3 linked regions of the Homo sapiens genome follow. The protein of the gene in region 2 purifies or fractionates together with the protein of the main gene of each other region. This does not show direct contact. Each region holds a gene or a part of one and is shown on either strand. Other genes may lie near its edges.

Region 1 (7,403 bases), on a different chromosome or scaffold from region 2:
TTCTAAACCATGACTGAGTAGACTCTAAAAGAACAATGGAAACTTCACCAAATTTAGCACAGAAAACTGACACCAGTTTTTCAATGCAATTTTTGTTCAAGATTTTCCAGGGGAAAAGAAGTTTCCTTAAATAGTGTCCTTAAAAACAACCCAATAACACACCAAAAGACATAAAGTTTGTGGGTTTTTTTGCTTTTTTAAACTATCAATAACTTTATTTATTCACTTATTTATTTTTTTTGAGAGGAAGTCTCACTCTGTTGCCCAGGCTGGAGTGCGGTGGCATGATCTCGGCTCACTGCAACCTCTGCCTCCCGGGTTCAAGTGATTCTCCTGCCTTGGCCTCCCAAGTAGCTGGGATTCCAGGCATGCGCCACCATGCCCAGCTAATTTTTGTATTTTTAGTAGAGACGTGGTTTCACCATGTTGGCCAGGCTGGTCTCAAACTCCTGACCTCGTGATCTGCCCACCTAGGCCTCCCAAAGTGCTGAGATTACAGGCGTGAGCCACCACGCCTGACCCTCAAAAACTTTAATTCTCCATATCTTTCTTTTCTTTTCTTTTCTTTTTTAAAGGAGAATTGTTGACTGGGCGCGGTGGCTCACACCTGTAATCCTAGCACTTTGGGAGGCTGAGGCAGGCGGATCACTTGAGGCCAGGAGTTTGAGATCAGCCTGGCCAACATGGCTAAACCCTGACTCTACTTGAAACACAAAAACTAGCCGAATATGGTGGCACATGCCTGTAATTCCAGCTACTCAGGAGGCTGAGGCACGAGAATCACTTGAACCAGGGAGGTGGAGGTGACAGTGAGCAGAGATGGTGTCACTGCACTCCAGCCTGGGCCACATGGTGAGACTCTGAAAAAGAAAAAAAAAATGGAGAATTGTTAAAGAACATTTCAATATGCATTTGAAGTCAAAATGAGCTTCTGTTTTCGATGGAGCAAACAGCGGGCACTTTGAACCTTGCGAATCAGTGATAAGAATCGTGAAGGGGGCCGTGCACGGTGGCTCACACCTGTAATCCTAGCACTTTGGGAGGCTGAGGCTGGTGGATTGCCTGAGGTCAGGAGTTCAAGTCCAGCCTGGCCAACATGCTGAAACCCCATCTCTATTAAAAATTCAAAAATTAGCCAGGCGTGGTGGTGGGCGCCTTTAATCCCAGCTACTTGGGAGGCTGAGGCAGGAGAATCACTTGAACCCAGGAGGCGGAGGTTGCAGTGAGCCAAGATCACGCCATCGCACTCCAGCCTGGGTGACAAGCGTGAGACTCTCTCAAAAAAAAAAAAAAAAAAAATGCCCCTGCATGATTCTAGCCCTTTAGCTTCCACAAATCACCATTGCCAATTATTCCTAAATCCAACTTGCTATCTTTCCAAAGGGTTCTATCTTTAGTGATTAAGATAGTTTGTTTGAAGTGATCTTATTTCAACTCTGAATATCTCGATGGACAACTAGGGCAGTAGAAGAGGCTTTACAGGACCTCACTTTCTTTTCTTTCTTTCTTTTTTTTTTTTTTTTTTTGAGACAGAGTCTCACTCTATTGCCCAGGCTGGAGTACAGTGTCACGGTCTCGGATCACTGCAACCTCTGCCTCCAAGGTTCAAAGGATTCTTGTGTCTTGGCCTCCCATGTAGCTGGGATTACAGGCTTGCACCACCACTCCCGGCTAATTTTTGTATTTTTAGTAGAGATGGGCCACCTTATTGGCCAGGCTGGTCTTGAACTCCCAACCTCAGGTGATCTGCCTGCCTCAGCCTCCCAAAGAGCTGGGATTACGGCATGAGCCACTGTACACAGCCTTTTTTTTTTTTTTTTTTTTTTTTTTTTTTGAGACAGGGTCTTGCTCTGCTGTCACCTATCATAGCTCATCGTAACCTCAAACTCCTGGACTCAAGCAATTCTCTCACCTCAGCCCCCCAAGTAGCTGGGACTACAGGTGTGCCAGTAACATTTTGCCTTTTTGAAGAAAGGGATTTGTGAGTTTACCATTCCTCTTTTATTATTATTATTACTTTCTAACAGTGTTATTCCTTCTACATTTTTTGCTTGGCATCCTACTGTAAGAAAGTTTTCTTTTCTCTCCCATTTATTTATGTCAGTATGGACTCATGGATTCTTTCCTTTTTATTCAATGGGTTATAATCCATTACTATGATTATTTATTGTGATGCTCATAATTGGTCCTCAAGGGTACCTGCACTTCTACAGTATAGGTCACAAGAACACAGCCTTACATTTAAAATGAGCACAAAATACTTGCTTTCAGGGTCTCTCTGATTCAGATAGCTCTGTGAGCAAGGCAAACAATCATCTTTCCTGTAAACTGTTTGCTAAAAGGCTTCTCTGCTGGTACTGAGTATGGCGAGAACTCTAGGTTTTCTCACTCTAGGTCCCTTGTGCTTTCCACTCTATTCAGCAGTCTCCTTTAAGGACTGAAGGGTAAAACTTCAGGTAACAACTCCACAGTGGGAGGTCTTGTCCTTGGCAAGACTTCTCCAGAGTAGCCTACAGCCTATGTGTAAGGTAACCCTGGAGTCAAGTGCTGTTTGATACAGCATCAGCGTGAGGTTAGGTTATGCTGGTTTGAGCAAAGATGGGAGGCAGAGAGACACCCTGAATTTTATTACCCACAAGAATTATTCAGGATGAGTTTTTCCCCCCTTCCAAATTACCCAAGTCTTTTTTTATACAGAAAGACAAAAAAAGTAGCTTGAGTCTATAATTCCTTCCCTACAATTTCCCTTATTTTTAATGTGCAAGTAACTAAAAAAGCAAGATCACAGAAGGGTTTATAACAAAAAGCCAAAGTCCCCAGCCTCAAATCACTCCTCCTCTTAGGAAAACTTTTTTTTTTTGTTTGGTTTTTGAGACGCAGTTTTTGCCCAGGCTGGAGTGCAATGGCGCAATCTCGGCTCACTGCAACTTCCACCTCCCGGGTTTCAAGCAATTCTCCTGCCTCAGCCTTCCAAGTAGTTGGGATTACAGGCATGCGCCACCACGCCCAGCTAATTTTGTATTTTTAGTAGAGATGGGGTTTCTCCATGTTGGTCAGGCTGGCCTCGAACTCTCGACCTCAGGTGATCCGCCCGCCTCGGCCTCCCAAAATGCTGGGATTACAGGCGTGAGCCACCGTGTCCAGCCTCGGAAAACTCTTAATTGCTTCCCATTTTTAGTTCTGGCAGCTCTCTCCATATTTGTGGAAACTATTCATTGGATTATCAATGTAAGGTATTATCTGTCGACTCACTTCTAAAATAGATCAGGATTTAACACTCCTCTCCACCTCTTCCCTCTCTCTGAATTTCTAACAGTTTATTACCTCATGTTCTAGAGATAATCTTTCAATTGTATACTTAAACCTCGATTTTTTTTTGTTTCGTTGCTCAAAGTTAGTTAGATATTGGCCCTGTTGTCTTCCATCAGCTGCACCTTTACCTTTACGTCAAGGTTGAGAACATTGACCTTCAGGTCTGTCATCCTGCTTAAGAGTTTCCGTGCTTTGTCTGCAAGATGGTGCTTAAAGCTTTACCTAGGAGCAGTATTTGCTGGGTTATGTCGGTGGAGGACAGCGTGCTCTGCCTCGCTGGCTACTAAGTGCTGGAGCTGCAGCCTGTCCCCTCCAGGTGCAATGTCACGTCCCCAGATGCTTAACTTGTGGTCTAGGGGTACCTTTTAAAAATCGTTGCAACACTGCTTACAATTTTCGCCCTCCAAGTGGACAGCTTCGGGCATCCCTCACCGCCCCAGATTCTCAAGGGGGTCTGGTGCCCACCGTTTTATGTAGCGTGAGTTTAATTCCCAGGGCTCAGATGTCAAGGAGACAAGAGCTACCGCTCAGTGGGCGTTTTCTCAACCCAAACTCCCGATCGACCTCGAGTCTCCCCGCCGGACCCGGAGCAAATCTCAGAGTCAAGATGCGAGAAGGGGTGGCCGGGCGGCGGACCTCAGGCTTCCGGCACCCTTGCGCTTCCCGCCGGCACGAAGGACTCCCCTGGACAACCGCCCGCCTCTCAGAGGCCGGAGTCCTAGGCCCTCCGGCCTGCGTTGCCTGTCCACAGACGCGCCGGCCTCGGGACACCCACCACAGGGGTAAGACGCGCCTCTGCCAGCTCCCCAGCCCGAAACCCAGAACGCCCTCCTAGGAGCCTCACAGCGCAGATCAGGGGACGGGCTTTCGGCCGCACCCCTTCACTCTTTCCCCGCCTTCTTTGTTTATTCCGGACCCACCATTGGCTGCTTGCCCTCGATACCGGGCGAGCCGCCGGTCTTTGGAGAGAGGCGATTGGACGAAGTCCCTGCCGCTCGGCCAGCAGCCCGCTCGCGATTGGTTGAGGCGCCGCCGGGGGTTTGAATCGCATCCCCGGCCGGGGAGGGTTCTGCCAAAGTGCCACGTTGGGCCCGGCGGCGGCGTGAAGACTGGCGGCTGCGTGAGACTCCGGCTCCAGGCGTTCGCACCGTAATGCCCGGCCGTTGGGGCCGTCGGTAGGCGCGAGGCGAGTCGAGGCAGCCGGCCGGTCGGCGGCCGCCGGCGGGAACGGGGCTGAGGCGGCGCAGCGGAGTCTGGGCGGCGGCGCGTCCCGCCCGAGGGCGGCTCTGGCTGAGGGCGGAGGGGCCGGGGAAGAGCCCGGGGCAGCGGCTGAGGCGGGACGGCGGCGGGGGCCGCTGCCCCTAGAAGACCCAGCCGAGATGCTGGCGGAAAACCTGGTAGAGGAGTTTGAGATGAAGGAGGACGAGCCGTGGTACGACCACCAGGACCTCCAGCAAGGTGAGGGCGGGGGCGCCCCGCGGGCGGGCGGCGGCCTGGCCCGGGAGGCCCCCGCTGCGAAACTGTTAAAAAGTTGCTTTTTGTGGCGGCGGAGGATGCAGGTGCCGGGAAGGGCTCAGGCTCACCTGGCGGCTGGGCCGGCCGTGCCCGCGGATCCCGCCCGCAGGAAGCCTCGGCACGGGGCCCACGGCCTTGCTAATGCGCAGTTGAATATCAGCCCCGAGGCGCGTGGGGGCCAGGGACGAGCCAGGCACCGTTTTAAGCGCTTTCCGTGGATTAGCTAGTTTAATCCTCACTGCATTCCTCCGAGGCAGACCCGGGTGAGCCAGTGTGTCCCGCAGTAAGTGGCATAGCCCGAGAAGCCGCCCCGTCGCAGGCTGTCTAGCCCAGCGCCTTTCATGGCCAGCGTGGAGGGCCGGCTGCTGCAGGTGGTAGTTGTTTTGCGGCGTAGCGGGAGCTGTGCGCTCCGCACCGTAACTCCAGGAGACAGTAACTTTTTAAAAATTAATGTTTGAGGGTACATGGTAGGTGTATATATTTGTGGGGTACATGAGATGTTTGGATACAGGCACGCAGTGTGAAATAAGCACGTGATGGAGAACGGGGCGTCCATCCCAGCATTTATCCATTGAGGTACAAACAATCCAATTACACACTTTTGTTATCCCATTTTCCATATGAGGAAAGCGGAGATTAAAACGGTAAAGTGGCTTGCCTAAAGCTAAGTGTGGGAGGGAGTGTTTTTTGAACCCACACACTCAGAAGAAGAGTTGTAGTCACTGCTCAAACCCCATCTCTTCCTTACCATCCTAGTTTACAGTTTTTTTCAGTTGGGCGTTAAGCTGTTAGGCATAGTTCACCAGATGCCAATTGAAACGACAGAAGAAAGAGCGCATCTATCTCTGCCACTTTTCTTCAGTTTGCACGCCAGCTTTCACTTAGAAACAGGCCTGCCGATGGTGTCTCCAGAGAACAATCGTAGAGTAGCCCACTCTTTGGGGCCAGTGGGGCCCCTGTTTTTCTTATACTAATAGCAGGAGCTAGCAGTTGGGGAACACTTTTTATGTGCCTAACACTGATAGGCCCATAACACAGTTGCTCATTTAATTCTCCCAGTAACACAATAGAGGTAGTAATGTTGGGGAGTGCTAGGGTTCTCCTTAAGACTCCAGAGCAAACGTTCTTAACCGCTATACTGAGTACTGAACAATCCTCAGGAATTTTTCCAGGCATCTTCAGTTTCTGCAATTCTGTGTAAATGCTCTCAGCTCTAATCTTGCAATGAAAATTAACATCTCATTTAGTTGAATATTAAATGATCATGTTGCTTGTTCATGCTAACCACTGAACATGGCAGAAGAAAAGAATGTAGACCTGAATAACTCAGAAAAGGAAAATAAAATGAGCACCTCTTTTGGAGGAAGATAATTTCTTAAATTAACATGCAATCACTTTAACCAAAGTAATTCACCTTTATTACACTTACAGAGTCCAAGCTACTTAGTGGTTGCAGTGCAGTGTTTGGCACCATCTTCTTTATGTCCAAGAGACAAATTTATTATACATATTAACAAACCTGTTTTCAGATTTCCCCGTAAGGATTGATGGCCTAGTTTGATAGTTTCTCCAGGATTTGTGAGGCAACCACTGTACCACTGCAGTACTTCCCTATAATTTAATTTGTATCATCACAACTAAATATTTCTCTTTCCTGTATTTAAGAAGCATTAATCTTTAAGGGCATAGAGGGGGCAGGTTCTTTTTTCTTGTGTTTCCAGCATCTAGCATAATACTTGGCACATACTGGAAGCTCGATTTTAATATTTGTTGAACTGCACTGAAGCACTCGCACAGAATTGTTTTCATGGCTCTCTTCCATCAGGTGCCTTAGTCCACGCTGCATTCTCCCGCTGTGGGAGGTTGTTAGGAACAACAGCTGTAACACTTCAATCTACCGAGCAGCAAGTGCAACGTGTCAGGGTTACACGAGGAATTCTCTTTAACCTCTGATCAAAATAAAGTCATCAGCTCTTCAAGTTTAACCTTAAAAACACAGGTCTGGGCTGGGCGCAGTGACTCATGCCTGTAATCCTAGCACTTTGGGAGGCCGAGGCGGGCATATAACCTGAGGCCAGGAATTCGAGACCAGCCTGGCCAACATGGTGAAACTCCATCTCCACTAAAAATACAAAATTAGGTGGGTGTGGTGGCAGGCCCCTGTAATCCCAGCTACTCGGGAGGCTGAGGCAGGAGAATTGCTTGAAACTGGGAGGCGGAGTTGCAGTGAGCTGAGATCGTGCTATTGCACTCCAGCCTGGATGACAAGAACGAAACTCCCTCTCAAAACACACACACACACACACACACACACACACACACACATATCTGAACCTCTTTACTGCCAGTTGCATTTCTGTGTTTTTCAAAGGGCTGTTACGTTATCACAGTGGACTTTGACTTAACCCTCTGTGTCATAACCAACTATATGGAGTACGAGTAGAAGATGTGAAATTCCAACAATTGTAACTTGTGAATATGGCCTGTCAAAGAATAAAGGCTACAGTGTGAATAAAAGGGTATCCTTTCCCCAGTTTTGCTAAGTTATATGTTAACTCCTAAACTTTTAACAGATT
Region 2 (7,951 bases):
ATCAACTCCCCAAGGTGCTGGCACCACCCAGCTGCATTCCAGGCAGTGCCTATTAATGTGCTAGGAATGGCGCTGGGTGATTGACAAGCGGGTCAGTCCAGACTGGCTGAAACCATCTTCAGGCACAGGGAAAGGAAAAGGGCCTAGAAAATGATCAATAAGAGCCACTGCGATGTGTTGGCTTACTTTGTGCTGGCACTGGCCAAGGCTACACCAGGTGTATAAACACACCACGCACATGGTTTACGATGATAATGCTGCAAGGGGGCCTGAAGAGGTGCCTGAGGGAGTGGCCAAGAGCACGGCTCTGAGCCACCCAGCCTGGGCTCAAGTCCTGGCTCTGCCACTTACCAGCTGGTGACCTTATCCTCTCTGTGCCTCAGTTTCCTCAGTTTCTGTAAAAATGGCAGGATAACAGTAGTACATAAATCTGAGAGCCATTGTGAGGACTAAATGAGTCCATACATGTAAGGCATTTAGAATTGTGCCTGGGCTGGGCACAGTGGCTCATGCCTATAATCCCAACACTTTGGGAGGCCAAGCCCAGAGGATTACTTGAGTCCAGGATTCGAGATCAGCCTGGGCAACATAGCGAGACCCCATCTCCACAAAAAATAAAACAATTAACTGGGCATCGTGGTGGCCACCTGCAGTCCCAGCTACTCAGGAGGCTGAGGCTGAAGCAGGAAGATCGCTTGAGCCCAGGAATTCGAGGCTGCAGTGAGCTATGATTGTGCTCCTACACTCCAGCCTGGGTGACAGAGTGAGACCCTGTCTCTAAAAAAGAAAAAATAAAAATAAAAAATTAAAATAAAAAAAATTGTGCTGGCACATAGTAAATACTCGGTGTTAATTTATCATCATAGTTCTCATTTTAAGATGAAGAAACTGAAGCTTACAGCAATTAAATAACCCGCCTGGGGTTGGCTGCTCTGAAGACCTTTGCCTTTGCTGCCCTGTTCCTGGAAGCCTCTCATGCCCATCTTCCCGTGGCTGCCCCCTCAGGTGACTCACAAGCTGCTCAGGGATGGCCTCCAGACCACTGACCCCTCCCCTGCCCCAATCACTGTGGACCCAGCACTCTGCCTTGATCTCTCCTTCGCACTTATCACATCTGAAATTATCTTGTTCATTCAGCAAATGAGCTAATACATATAGAGCACTATTATTATTATATGTTTGCTTGGTTGCTGTCTGTCCTCATAGGGGCAGGGCCCTCACCTGTCTTGTCTACCACATGACAGGAACTCAGAGCCAGCTTCATGGGTGTGTGGCCTGCACAGTCGCCCAGGGCCCTGCACTCAGAAGGGGCTACATTTGCTTTAATGCTCTGCTGTTATTGTCTTGAAATTCTTAACAATTTTTTTAGAGACAAGGTCTCACTCTGTCACCCAGGCTAGAGTGCAGTGGTGTAATCACAGCTCACTACAGCCTCTGACTCCTAGGTTCAAAGCAGTCAAGCCATCCTCCCACACAGCTAAGACTATAGGTGTGCACCACCACATTCAGCTAATTTTTTAAATTTTTGGGGAGATGCGGGTCTCGCTATGTGGCCCAGGCTGGTCTCGAACTCCTGGGCTCAAGTGATCCTCCCGCCTCCAAGTAGCTGTGATTATAGGCACAAGCCACCACGCCCGGCCTTAACAATTTTTTAACAAAGGGCTTTACATTTTCATTTTGCACTGGGCCCCAGAAAATTATACTGATAGAGTGATCAGGGCTATAGATCAGTGAGTAAGTGAATGAATGAATGAATGAATGAATGAATGAATGAGCAAGCCTACATTCCAAACAGGTCTCTCAGACTCCATAACCCTACTACTTAACTACCATGCCAAACAACCTCCATATGGAGGAAGAGAGGTGGGCAGGGCAGTCAGAACCAGGGACAACCACAGCCTGACGGAGAAGCTAGGGTACAGGGGAAGGGAGCACCTTAGGAGGAAGCATCTGTTTGCGCTTCCTCTGGAGCCCAGCATTCTTCTCAACCTCTCATTGTCCTTGTACCTCAAGCAGCATGAAAACCATTTGCTGCCACCTAATGTTACTTTTTGGTTGCCTAAGACAGAGGGACCTTGGCTCTGCCTCCTGGGACAGATGTGGACCAGTCAGGTGCTCTTCAAAGCCACGGCTATGACAGCGCCTCGGGGCACCCAGCACAGCCCTAGGTGCCTGGACCTTGGTAAGTAAATAGATACAATCCTTGCCCTTTGTGCCTTAGGGGTGTCATCAAAACTACATGGCTATGAGGTGAGGATGGAGCAAGGAGGGACTGCTGGGCTGGGAACCTGGTGGGGTTAATCAGGGGAGCTTTCTGGAGAAGGTGCCCTTGGGCGCCTCATTTTCCACTCCCCCTGAACTCTCCTTACCTCAGCGGGCATCACACATTCTGGTCCCCAGAGGTTTTCCTTTAATGGTCTTGACTCCTAACATCTTCGGAACAGTTAAAGCCATTCCAGTTAAAATCACCCATTGATCTTTCCTCAAATTAAACTCCTCCCTCTCTTTCCCATTGCCACCCCAGGCCTGCCTCTGGCTGTTCTTGGAGCCATCCTTGATCTTCTCCCACTCTCCCCTGAACAGCAGACATCTGTTTCTCCAAACTCTCTAGCATTGTCTAACACTTCAGTTAAAGCTCTCGTCATCTGTAACTTTGTGTCCTGGTTATGTACACATTCCCAGACTTGGCCATCAACTTCTTGAAGGCAGGACTCTCCTAGATTCACCTTTAAAATGTAGGTAAGGCAAGAAGGAAAAGGTTTGGAGGAAGCAAAGTTTTGTACACATTGGATGGTCTTGGCTAAATACAGGATAGTGGAGATATACGGGGGGCTGAGGCTTTCTTATGAAAAATGCAGATGGTGGGACAGTCTTTTGAGAACAAAAATTAGTCCACATGGTGATGTAGCTAGAGACATATAAGAGAAGACTTGATAAAACAAACACATTTTAATGGGAGAAAATATTCTGAAATCACATAGCTGTGAAGGGAGTAATATCTGGAATATACAGAGAACTCCTAAAACTCAATAACAACAACAACAAAAAAAAAACCCGATTAAAAACAGGTAAAGGACTTGAATAGATATTTCTCTGAAGATATACAAATGGCTGATAAGCACATAAAAAGATACTCAATATCACTAATCATTAGACAAATGCAAGTCAAAGCTACATTGAGATACAGCCCTCACCCATTATGATGGTTACTATCAAAAAACCAGAAAATAACAAATGTTGGTAAGGATGTGGAGAAATTGGAACCCTTGTGCACCGGTGGTGGGAGTGCAAAATGGTGCAGCTGCTGTGGAAGACAGTATGGCAGTTCCTCAAAAAACTTAAAATAGAATTACCATATGATCCAGCAATTCCGCTTCTGGGTATATACCAAAAGAATTGAAAGCAAGGTCTTGAGATGTCTGTACATCCATGTTCATAGCAGCATTATTCACAAGAGCTAAAACATGGAGGCAACCTAAGTGTCTATCAATGGATGTGTAAACAAAATGTGGTATATACATGCAACGGAATATTACTCAGCCTTAAAAAGGAAGGAAATTCTGACATATGCTACAAAATGAATGAACCTTGAAGTGAAAATATTATGCTAAGCAAAATAAGCCAGTTGCAAAAATACTGCAGGATTCCACTTACATGAGGTACCTAGAGTAGTCAAAATCATACAGACAAAATAGAATGGTCGTTGCCAGGGGCTGGGGGGAGAGGGGGAAATGGGGATTTATTGTTTAATGAGTATGGAGTTTCAGTTTTACAAGAGTTACGGAGATGGTGCGATGGCTGCACAACATTATTCAGTGCTATTTCATACCCATGAACTGTACACTTAAAAATGGCTGGCTGGGCACCGTGGCTCACGCCTGTAATCCCAGCATTTTGGGAGGCCGAGGCAGGTGGATCGCCTGAGGTCAGGAGTTCGAGATCAGCCTGGCCAACATGGTAAAACCCTGTCCCTACTAAAAATACAAAACATAGCCAGGCATGATGGCGGGCGCCTGTAGTCCCAGCTACTTGGGAGGCTGAGGCAGGAGAATCACTTGAACCCGGGAGGCGGAGGTTGCGCCATTCACTGAACACCAGCCTGGGCGACAGAGCCACAGAGCAAGACTCCATCTCAAAATAAATAAATAAATAAATAAAAGGTTAAGGCCAGGTGTGGTGGCTCACACCTGTAATCCCAGCACTTTGGGAGGCCAAGGTGGGAGGATCACTTGAGCCCAGGAGTTTGAGACCAGCATGGGCCACATAGCAAGACCTTGTCTAAAAAAAATGGTTAAGATAGTAAATTTTGTTATGTGTATTTTACCACAATACAAAATAATAAATTGTAAAGAAAAAAAAAGTTTTTCTAGTCTGAATCAACACAGTTGGCATTGCTCATGCTAGAAAACCTGCGCCTCCCAGAGAAAAATGTCTGGCTTATGAGGGGTAGGAAGGGGGGAACAGAAGGGATACTAACAGGGACTGGGCAGAGAAGAACAAGAACTAGGAAGCACTAAAGAAGGAATTGAGGCCGAGTACCAAGGGATAGTGACAGGTACGGGGGCACCCACGAACAACGTTCAAACATATTTTCATCCAGTAACCTGTATTTACATGCAAATATATTGGTTTATGCAAAACAGCGGAGGCCTCGGGGGAGGGTTTTTTAGTCTCAAGCTTGTGCAGTCATTGAAAAAGAGACGCAAAGCTGTCTCTGGGGTACTCCACGTCCGCCTTGCCCCTGGGAGCTGGGCCGGTTCCAGGAGGACGAAGACTGAATTAGCTCGGCTTGCAGAGAAAGGCGAGCAGCGCCCCTACACGGAGAGTAGCGGTGCGCCTACAAAGTCGCGCATGCCCACTCCGGCCTCCCGCTCCACTCCTAAGGCAGGCGGCGAGGCTTAGTGCGCAAGCGCCATTCGTCGGCGCCGACTCCTCCCGCTAAGGCGGGAACACGCGGGGCCCAAGATGGCGGCCAGCCGGTACCGGCGTTTTCTTAAGCTCTGTGAGGAATGGCCAGTGGACGAGACCAAACGGGGCCGGGACTTGGGCGCTTACCTGCGACAGCGGGTAGCACAGGCCTTTCGGGAGGGAGAGAATACCCAGGTGACCGGCGGGGAGGCGGCTGGGACGAGGGGAGGAAAGGACGAGGCAGGGGCGGGGCCAACGAGCGCGCTAGCAGGGGGATCTGCGCATGCGCGCGCCCTCTTTCCAGGCAGCACGTGAGCGCGGACCCCCTTTTTCCCCCAGGGAGCTACTGATAGCGACGCCCGTTGTATTCAGCGCTCTCCCCCGGCTGCACCTTGGAATTGCCGAAGAAGCTTTTTTTAAACTCCAGATGGGCCGGGTGCGGCGGTTCACACCTATAATTCCAGCACTCTTTGAGAGGCCGAGGCGGGAGGATCGCTTGAGCCCAGGATGACCTCCTGGGCAACATAGTGGGACTCCGTCTCTACAAATCAAAAAACAAACAAAAACTTCAAATGCAGAATCTCTAGGGGTGGGGTCTTGACCTCAGAGTTTTAAAAGCTCTCCAGGTGATTCAAGGTGCAGAGAGAGTTGAGACCCACACCACCAGTGGCAGCTGGTGACAGCCTCAGCTTTTTGCTTCCTTGTCACGGTAGCATTACCTCATTATTTCGCAGTGTTGTGTATTGACTGAGCTAATCCCCAGTTAACTCTGCAGGTCCCCGCTAAGCGTTTGCGTTCTTCCTGAGCCCCTGTAAGCCTGTGCAGCAGGTTTGGGTCCTCAGCTCACGCAGCTGTGTGTGAGTAGTAGGCCTATGTTCTTGCTTTCCTCCAGGTTGGCGCTGCAGCTCTGGGATTCATTCATTCATATAGCTCGTATTTATTGAGCACCTACCATATGCCTGGAACGGTGCTAGGGAAACAGCAGTGTTAAACAGGTGAAGTCCTGCCCGCATGAAGTTTTACATTGTAGTTCAGGACACAATAAGCAGGTAAGTGTACGTAAGACAGATAAGTACTGTGATCGATAGAAAATAGGGTAGCGTGATAAAAGGGTAATGTTATTAGTGGGGCCTTTCTGAGGAGATGACACATAGGTGAGACCTAAGGCAAGAGGATGAGCCAGCCATGTACACTTGGCGGGAAGGACATTCCAGACACTGCACATGTCCAGAGGCAGGAGGCAGATTGACATGTTTGAGGACAGAAAGAAAGCCAGAATGGCTGCAGGGTAGTAAGTAAGGTGGAGTTTGCTAAGGTGAAGGTCCGGAGCCAGGCACAGTAGGATATTATCTGTTCTGATTAGCTTTAGACCTCATTATAAGGCCAGTGAGAAGTCACTGGGGATGTTTAGTGAGGGGACTGATGTGCCCTAATTTACTTTTTAAAAGACTATTCTGGTTGTATGTGGTGAGTGGGCTATAGGGGGCAATAACAAAAAAAGAGGCTGGAGAGAAGCCGATTATGGTACTATAAGCGACAGATGGTGGGGGGTTGGATGAGGACGGCAGCACAGAAGATGGAAGTGGTTGGATTCAGGTTATGCGCAGGTTGAGTCAGCAGGACTTGCTGATATATGGGATGTGGGATAAAGGAAAAGAGAGGAACCAAAGATAGCACCTAGATATTTTTTGGCCTGGGCATCTAGGTCTAAGATGGTGCCATTTACTGAGGTAGGAATAGGTGAAGTGTAGGAAGAATATCTCGAGTTCGGTGTTAAGCAGGTTAAACCTGAGATGCCAAGTACACTGATTTCCAAGTGGCAATGTCAAGTAGGCAGTGCTATATTTGAGCCTGGGGCTCGGGCAAGAGACCAGAAATGAAATGAGATAATGAGATGCATATACACACAGTCTGAAGAAATGACTTGTGAAACTTGGCCAAGACTTGTTACAGAAGGAACATGGGTTTTTTTTTTTTCAGCTTAGCCCGAAACAGAGCCAAGCCAGCCCACCTAAAGGAGCAGGAGCACGCCCAGTGGCATCATTGTGACTGTACTGCTGATTGGCTGGCAGCCTGGGGAGTGTCTGGCCCAGGTTATACGATACCCAGGGCCCTCACATTATTCATGGTGGTCTTCACTGGCCCAAAGTGTAAAGATCTTTAAGGCAAGAATCTTATCTAGTCCCAATTCTACAAACCCGTGAACTTTCTAAAGCTGTACTCCCTGCATATTTTTAGTATGAGCTTCCTGAAAATAGAGATGATGCCATTTTTATCTTTCCCTCTCTCCCCTACGAGTGTCTAGCTAGTTCTTGGCCCATAAAAAAACACTCAGTAAATGTCTGAATGGATAAGTAAATAATTGGTTGTGGCTCATGAGACAAAGATAATTTGAATATAGTTTCAGATGTAGCAGAACTAGATGAAGAGAAGTTGTGAAGAGTGAGAAAGGAATATTTGTGTGTCCTGAGTGGTGAGAATTGATTTGAGAGCTTACCATGTTTGGGAAATTGCAGGATCTATGGAGGAAGGCCATAACCTGGCCTTCACCACTGAGGAGCTTACAGTTGAGCAGTCAGCGGCTCCATCCTTGGGGAGGTGAGAGAGCGTAACATTCACTTGCTTGATTGTTAGTGTAAGAGGAGCCAGCAAAGGAGGAAAGAGTTTTCTCTTTCGGAGTTGTCATCACCTAGGGCAATCGTTTCTGATCAGTCAAAGGCCCACACAGGTTTGAGTCCCAGCTGCAGATGCAACTCATGGCTGTGTTAGTGATTCTGTAGCAGCTGATGAATGCATTCCTGGTAGAGTGAACCAGTGCACAATGGCAGCAGGTGCATTACTCAGGACCACTGTTGCGGTACCTCATCCTAATGTCACCTGAGAATGCACCTGGCCTTAGTAAATCTTTGTGGTAATTTTTGAAGGGCGCAATTCCTTGCTGGAATTGAAAACACTATTGTGAGTCACTCCTACTGACACCCCCAGATCATTTATAAAGACCTTGAGAAAGCAAGATGATTCTGGTAGGCTCTTCATTAAACTG
Region 3 (6,993 bases), on a different chromosome or scaffold from region 2:
CAAGTATATGAAAAAATGCTCAGCATCATTAATCATCAGGGAAATGCAATCTAAAGCCACAATGAGATATTACCTTGCACCTGTTCGAATGGCTACTATAACATTGTTCCTAAGGACGTGGAGAAAGGGAACCCTTGCACACTGTTGGTGGAATGTAAATTAGTACACCCATTATAGAAAACAGTATGGAGGTTCCTCAAACAATTAAAAACAGAACCACCATAGGATACAGCAGTCTCACTATTGGATATATATTCAAAGGAGATGAAATCAGTATGTTGAAGAGGCATCTATACTAACATGTTCATTGCAGTGGTATTCACAACAGCCAAGTATGGAATTAACCTAAGTGTCCATTAGTGATGAACAAATAAAGAAAATGTGGTGGCTGGGCGTGGTTGTTCACGCCTGTAATTCCAGCACTTTGGGAGGCCGAGGTGGGCAGATCATGAGGTCAGGAGACCGAGACCATCCTGACCAACATGGTGAAACCCGTCTCTACTAAAAATACAAAAATTAGCTGGGTGTAGTGGTGCACGCCTGTAATCCCTGCTACTCAGGAGGCTGAGGCAGGAGAATCGCTTGAACCTGGGAGGGGGAGGTTGCAGTGAGCTGAGATTGCATCACTGCACTCTAGCCTGGTGGCAGAGTGAGACTCCGTCTCAAAAAAAAAAAAAAAAAAAAAGAAAAAAGAAAGAAAGAAAGAAAGAAAATGTGGTTTATGACCAGGTACAGTGACTCATGCCTGTAATCCCAGTACTTTGGGAGGCAGAGGTGGGCAGATGACTTGAGGCCAGGAGTTCGAGACCAGCCTGGCCAGCATGGTGAAACCCTGTCTCTACTAAAAATACAAAAATTAGCCGGACATGGTGGCACGTGCCTGTAGTCCCAGCTACTTGGGAGACTGAGGCACAAGAATTGCTTGAACCCAGGAGGTACAGGCTGCAGTGAGCTGGGATTGTGTCACTGCACTCCACCCTGGGCGGCAGAGCAAGACTCTGTCTCAAAAAAAAAAAAAAGTGATTTATATATATAATGGAATGCTATTCAGCCTAAAAGAAGAAGGAAATGCTGGCCAGGTGCGGTGGCTCACACCTGTAATCCCAACACTTTGGGAAGCCAAGGTGGGCAGATCACCTGAGGTCGGGAGCTCAAGACCAGCCTGACCAACATGGAGAAACCCCATCTCTACTAAAAATAAAAATTAGCTGGGTGTGGTGGCACATGCCTGTAGTCCAGGCTACTTGGGAGGCTGAGGCAGGAGAATTGCTTGAACCCGGGAGGGAGAGGTTGCAGTGAGCCAAGATTGTGCCACTGCACTCCAGCCTGGGCAACAAGAGCAAGACTCTGTCTCAAGGAAAAAAAAAAGAAGGAAATGCTCATATCTATGACAACATGGATGAACTGGGAGGATGTTATGTTAAGAGAAATAAATGAGGCACAGAAAGACAAACACTGCTTGATTTCTCTCATATGTGGAATATAAGTTGAACACACAGAAGTAGAGAGTAGAATGGTGGTTACTAGAGGCTGAGGAGATGTTTGTCAAAGGATACAAAATTTCAGTTAAGAGAGATAAGTTCAGGAGGCCACTTTGGGAGGCCAAGGCAGGCGGATCACCTGAGGTCGGGAGTTCGAGACCAGCCTGACCAACATGGAGAAACCCCGTCTCTACTAAAATATAATATTAGCTGGGCGTGGTGGCGCATGCCTGTAATCCCAGCTACTCAGGAGGCTGAGGCAGGAGAATCACTTGAACCCGGGAGGCAGAGGTTGCAGTGAGCCAAGATCACGCCATTGCGCTCCAGCCTGGGCAACAAGAGTGAAACTCCGTCTCAAAAAAAAAAAGAAAAGATCTATTGTATAACATGGTGACTATACCCACTATGAATATGTATTGTATTCTTGAAAATTGCTTAAAGAACATATTTTAAACATTTCCAGCACAAAAATATGAGGTAATGCATATATTAATTAGCTTGACTTAGCCATTTCACAATGTATACATATTTTAAAACATCCTGGCCGGGGGCACGGTGGCTCACTCTTGTAATCCCAGCACTTTCGGAGGCCGATGTGGGTGGATCACCTGAGGTTAGGAGTTTGAGACCGTCCTAGCCGAAATGGCAAAACCCCGTCTCTACTGAAAACACAAAAATTAGCCAGGCGTGGTGGTGCGCATCTGTAATCCCAGCTACTTGGGAGTCTGAGGCAGGAGAATCGCTTGACTTGGGAGGTGGAGGTTGCAGTGAGCCGAGATTGAGCCACTGCACTCCAGCCTGGGCGACAAGAGTGAAACTCTGTCTCAAAAAAAAAAAAAAAAAGAAAAAAGAAAACATCCTGTTGTACACAATATATATTTTTTGTCAATTAATAAAAATCAATAAATTTAATTAAAAAAATAGTCGAGTGAAGTTATTTCCCATGACTAGCTCCTCTTCTTCCTTTAGATTTCATCTTACATGTCACTTTCTTGGAGAGGCCTTACCAACCTAACCAAAGTAGCTCCCCAGTTTTAATTTTTTTCACTGGGTTCCTATGCCTCCCCCACCAGTCTAAGAACTCCATGAAGCCAGTATGTCTTGTGTTCAGCACATAGGGAAGACTCAATAGGTCTTTGTTGACTGAATGAAATGAAAGAAGTCCTTCAACATCCTGCCCCTCTGCTCCCTCAACCCCCAAAGCACCAGTACTTTGTCTTCTCTTCTCTTGGGATGTAATGGAAGAGGAGTCTTCTACCAAGGCCGTTCTCTGCCACTTTCCTCAAGAAGCTCCTTGCCTCTTTGATTGATTCTCCTGTATACTCTTTTTTTTTTTTTTTTTTTGAGACGGAGTCTCGCTTTGTCACCCAGGCTGGAGTTCAGTGCCCCAGTCTCAGCTCACTGCAACCTCTGCCTCCCGGGTTCAAGCGATTCCCTGCCTCAGCCTCCCAAGTAGCTGGGATTACAGGCACACGCCACCATGCCCGGCTAATTTTTTTCGTATTTTCAGTAGAGACGGGGTTTCACCATATTGGTCAGGCTGGTCTTGAACTCCTGACCTCAGGCAATCCACCTGCCTCGGCCTCCCAAAGTGTTGGGATTACAGGCATGAGCCACCGGGCACGGCCCTGTATACTCTTCACTAATCTTTTCCTATCAATATGCAAAGATGTTTCCCTTAAACAACCAACCAACCACAAATCCCAAAAGTTTCTTCCTCTACCAGGCTTCAGATCGGCACATGACCGCCTTCTTGCCTTGACTTTCAGGAGTCTGGTATCCCCCGTATTCTTTTATCTTAGCCTCCTTCTCTGGCTTTTTTTTTTTTTTTTTTTTTTTTTTTTTTGAGACAGAGTCCAGTCCTGCTCTGTCGCCCAGGCTGGAGTGCAGTGGCGCGATCTCGGCTCACTGCAACCTCTGCCTTCAGAGTAGCTGGGATTACAGGCACACACCAACATGCCCGGCTACTTTCTTTGTATTTTTAGTTAGGGACGGGGTTTTGCCATGTTGGCCAGGCTAGTCTCGAACTCCTGATCTCAGGTGATCCGCCCGCCTCGGCCTCCCAAAGTGCTGGGATTACAGGCGTGAGCCACCGCGCCCGGTCTTCTGGCTCTTTCTAAAGATTGGGATTTCCTAAAGTCCTGTTCTTTTCAACCTCCATTGAAAAGTGTTGGGGTGGAGTTTGGGAAGGAGGGGCTGAGGAGTGAGGCTGGGTTAGGTGGGGAATAAAGAGAGGGATATGAGAAGCCCCGAGGTCTGGGGTCAAGGAGACAGGCGTGGGGGAAGGATTTGAACCACTGTTACGTGTAGTGGGGGAGACAGCAGGGAGAGCGTGCCCGGGCACGACAGCCTGGTGCACAGCCGAGAAAACAACAGCGCGTGCGCGTAGCGACCTCTTTGCGCCTGCGCCCCCCTTGCCAGTCTTTCGCCGGCAAAAGGAGGACGTAGAAAAGGGGACACCGGAAACTCACTCTTCACCCGGAAATGGTTATTGAGGAACATGGCGTTGCTGGTGCGAGTCCTTGTGAGTGAAGGAGTAATTTTCTACGGTAGCTCTCTGGGTCCCGGGTTGGAGTTCGACAAGGCAGGGCGGGAGGAATTGGAAGGAATCGCAGGAGGGAAGCCTGTGTTATAGCTAGGCTGAGTGGCCGCTTTTCCGTGGGGAAACTGAGGCAGCTTCCGACCTCTTCCTACCCCGTTTTGACCTTAGCTCCCCCATCTTTCGAGAAGGGGAAGACTGACATCTGGCCTTTATTTGATGGGGTTTACTTTTCCTTCCCTCCCCCATGTACCTGCTTCCCCTCAGGGAGAGGAGCATGTAGGACACTGATTGGAGTTTCAGGAGGCCTGGGTTCTAGTCCCTGACTGTCACTGATGCATAGTGACTTTAAGCAAGTCACTTTTGGGCCTCATTGACCCTATGTGAAAAACGAGGACATTTATCTCCTGCAGTCCCTTTAGATTCTGAGATTCTCAGGGTTTCTTTCATAGGTAATAAGTCAGTTCTTAACTGTACAGTTAAGTGGAATATAGATTATTAGATTGAAAGCTGCGTGAGAATTGGAGTCATGTCTGTCTCCGTCGTTTTCACTTTGCCTAGCATGGTGTCTGGCACATCATAGGTGTTAAATGATTACTTGTTGAATAAATGAATGAAGTAAGGAAAGACTACCAGACTCTTTAGCACCCGTGTGTGAAACTACTGCACCTCTTGAGATTTAGTCCTGACCCTTCTAGCATACTCTTTTCTCTAGCAATTAAAGGAGAAAAGAAAGTGGCAGCAGAAAAAACGTTAGGATACAGAGCTTAGTTTTTAATCATGGAGGGATGGGAGAGTGTATAGTTTTAGCGAGTCTTCAAAAACTGGGTCAAAGACACTGTTTTTCATAGTAGACATGGTCTATTCCTGTGTCTAGGTAACTTCTGAATTGTTATTTTACATTTGTGTTTTTGATCTTTTTATATATGTCTTACAAGGACGACAGTTTTACTTCTTGTATTCCTTGCCAGCCTAGCAGAGTGAGGTACCCTCGACTGCTGTTCAGTAAATATTTATTTGTAGAGTAGCCCCTGTAACTGCCAGAAAGATTCACCTGGTGAAGTGATTGTTTGATTTCAGGCCAGAAATTGATTCAGAAATGAGGACTGCTGGGGAAATGGCAATTAGAATGTTCTGAATTTAGTGGTTTTTTTTTTTTTTTTTTTTTTAATCCTTCCCCTGCCACCCTTTAGGGTTTTGTTTTTTTTTTTTTTTTTTTTGAGGCAGAGTCTTGCTCTGTCGCCGAAGCTGGAGTGCAGTGGTGCCATCTCGGGCTCACTGCAACTTCTGCTCCCGGGTTCAAGCAATTCTCCTGTGCCAGCCTCCCGAGTAGCTGGGATGACAGGCATGCACCACACCACACCTGACTAATTTTTGTATTTTTTTTTTTTTTGAGATGGAGTCTCGCTCTGTCACCCAGGGTGGAGTTCAGCGGTGTGATCTCGGCTCACTGCAACCTCTGCCTCCTGGGTTCAAGCAGTTCTCCTGCTTCAGCCTCCCAAGTAGCTGGGATTACAGGCGCCTGCCACCACACCTGGCTAACTTTTGTATTTTTAGTAGAGATGGAGTTTCACCATGTTGGCCAGACTGGTCTCGAACTCCTGACCTCATGATCCGCCTCCTGCGGCCTCCCAAAGTGCTGGGATAACAGGCATGAGCCACCGAGCCTGGCCTGACAACTATCATTTTATAGGGCACTTACTACGTGCTAAGCACTTTAAAATACTTACCTAATCCTTATAACATCCCTTTGGAAAGGAGGGCGTGTTATTTCCTCTATTTTACAGATAAGAAAACTGAACCACAGAGAGGTATTCCTGGCCAGGTGCCGTGGCTCACACCTGTAATCCCAGCACATTGGGAGGCTGAGGTAGGTGGATCACTTGAGGCCAGGAGTTCAAGACCAGCCTGGCCAACGTGGTGAAACCCTGTCTCTACTAAAAATACAAAAATTAGCCAGGCCTGGTGGTGGGCGCCTGTAATCCCAGCTACTCGTGAGGCTGAGACACGAGAATTGCTTCAACCCAGGAGGCGGAGGTTGCAGTGAGCTGAGATTGTGCCACTGCAGTCCAGCCTGGGTGAAAGAGTGAAACTCTGTCTGAAAAAAAAAAAGAAGTATTCCTGAAACATTCTTGTTAGTCTTGCTTTATTTTTTCCTCTTTTTGTCTTGTCAGCCAATATTTTCCCTTCTCCAGTGATGGTTTTGGGAAGGAGGAGGAAACTAAAACACTGCTATTGTTGAATGACTACAGCAGAGAGCCTGGACATTTGATCAGTGGAACTGGACATGCTTATGGTTTTTATGAGTTGTCCTGGGCATTGCTGATCATTTCTGCTTTTCTTTGGAAATAGTAAAAATTGCAGAAAGCCACCCTGTACTTTAGAAAATTAAAAAAAAGTTGTGGTAAAATACATGTAACAAAATTTACCTTTTAAACTTTTTTTTTTTTTTCTGAGACGGAGTTTTGCTCTTGTTGCGCAAGCTGGAGTGCAATGGCGTGATCTTGGCTCACTGCAACCTCTGCCTCCCGGGTTCAAGCGATTCTCCTGCCTCAGCCTCCTGAGTAGCTGGGATTACAGGCACGTGCCACTACGTTCAGCTAATTTTTTGTATTTTTAGTAGAAATGGGGTTTCACCATTTTAGCCAGGCTGATCTTGAATTCCTGACCTCAGGTGATCTGCCCGCCTTGGCCTCCCAAAGTGCTGGGATTACAGGCATGAGCCACTGTGCTTGGCCACCTTTGAAACTTTTTAAGTGTACAGTTCTGTGGTATTGAGTGCATTTACATTGTTGTGCCATCTTTACCACCCTTATCCACAGAATTATTTTCATTTTATAAAACTGAAACTCTGAACCTATTAATAACTCTCTATAGTCTTTTCTCCCCAGCCCCTGGCAGCCACCATTCTACTTTCTGTCTCCGTGAGTTTAACTACTTTGTGTACCTCATATAAGTGGAATCATACAGTAT

What was found. The genes of interacting proteins can lie anywhere in the genome.
Region 1: the proteins of UQCC2 (region 2) and CDR2 purify together in Homo sapiens (affinity purification with mass spectrometry; 2 studies listed by BioGRID and IntAct, with this or other methods). This does not show direct contact.
Region 3: the proteins of UQCC2 (region 2) and UQCC1 purify together in Homo sapiens (co-immunoprecipitation; 4 studies listed by BioGRID and IntAct, with this or other methods). This does not show direct contact.

What each region holds. Positions count from the first base shown.
Region 1 is NC_000016.10:22,371,598-22,379,000, reverse strand, and holds the start of CDR2 (cerebellar degeneration-related protein 2), read left to right. Parts: upstream 1-4,381; 5' UTR 4,382-4,691; coding exon 4,692-4,770; intron 4,771-7,403.
Region 2 is NC_000006.12:33,708,701-33,716,651, reverse strand, and holds the start of UQCC2 (ubiquinol-cytochrome c reductase complex assembly factor 2), read left to right. Parts: upstream 1-4,951; 5' UTR 4,952-4,965; coding exon 4,966-5,103; intron 5,104-5,202; exon of another isoform or gene 5,203-5,344; intron 5,345-5,404; exon of another isoform or gene 5,405-5,617; intron 5,618-5,800; exon of another isoform or gene 5,801-5,957; intron 5,958-6,888; exon of another isoform or gene 6,889-7,073; intron 7,074-7,951.
Region 3 is NC_000020.11:35,408,952-35,415,944, reverse strand, and holds the start of UQCC1 (ubiquinol-cytochrome c reductase complex assembly factor 1), read left to right. Parts: upstream 1-3,971; 5' UTR 3,972-3,981; coding exon 3,982-4,005; exon of another isoform or gene 4,006-4,030; intron 4,031-5,652; exon of another isoform or gene 5,653-5,890; intron 5,891-6,993. UniProt on the Homo sapiens protein: Required for the assembly of the ubiquinol-cytochrome c reductase complex (mitochondrial respiratory chain complex III or cytochrome b-c1 complex). Involved in cytochrome b translation and/or stability.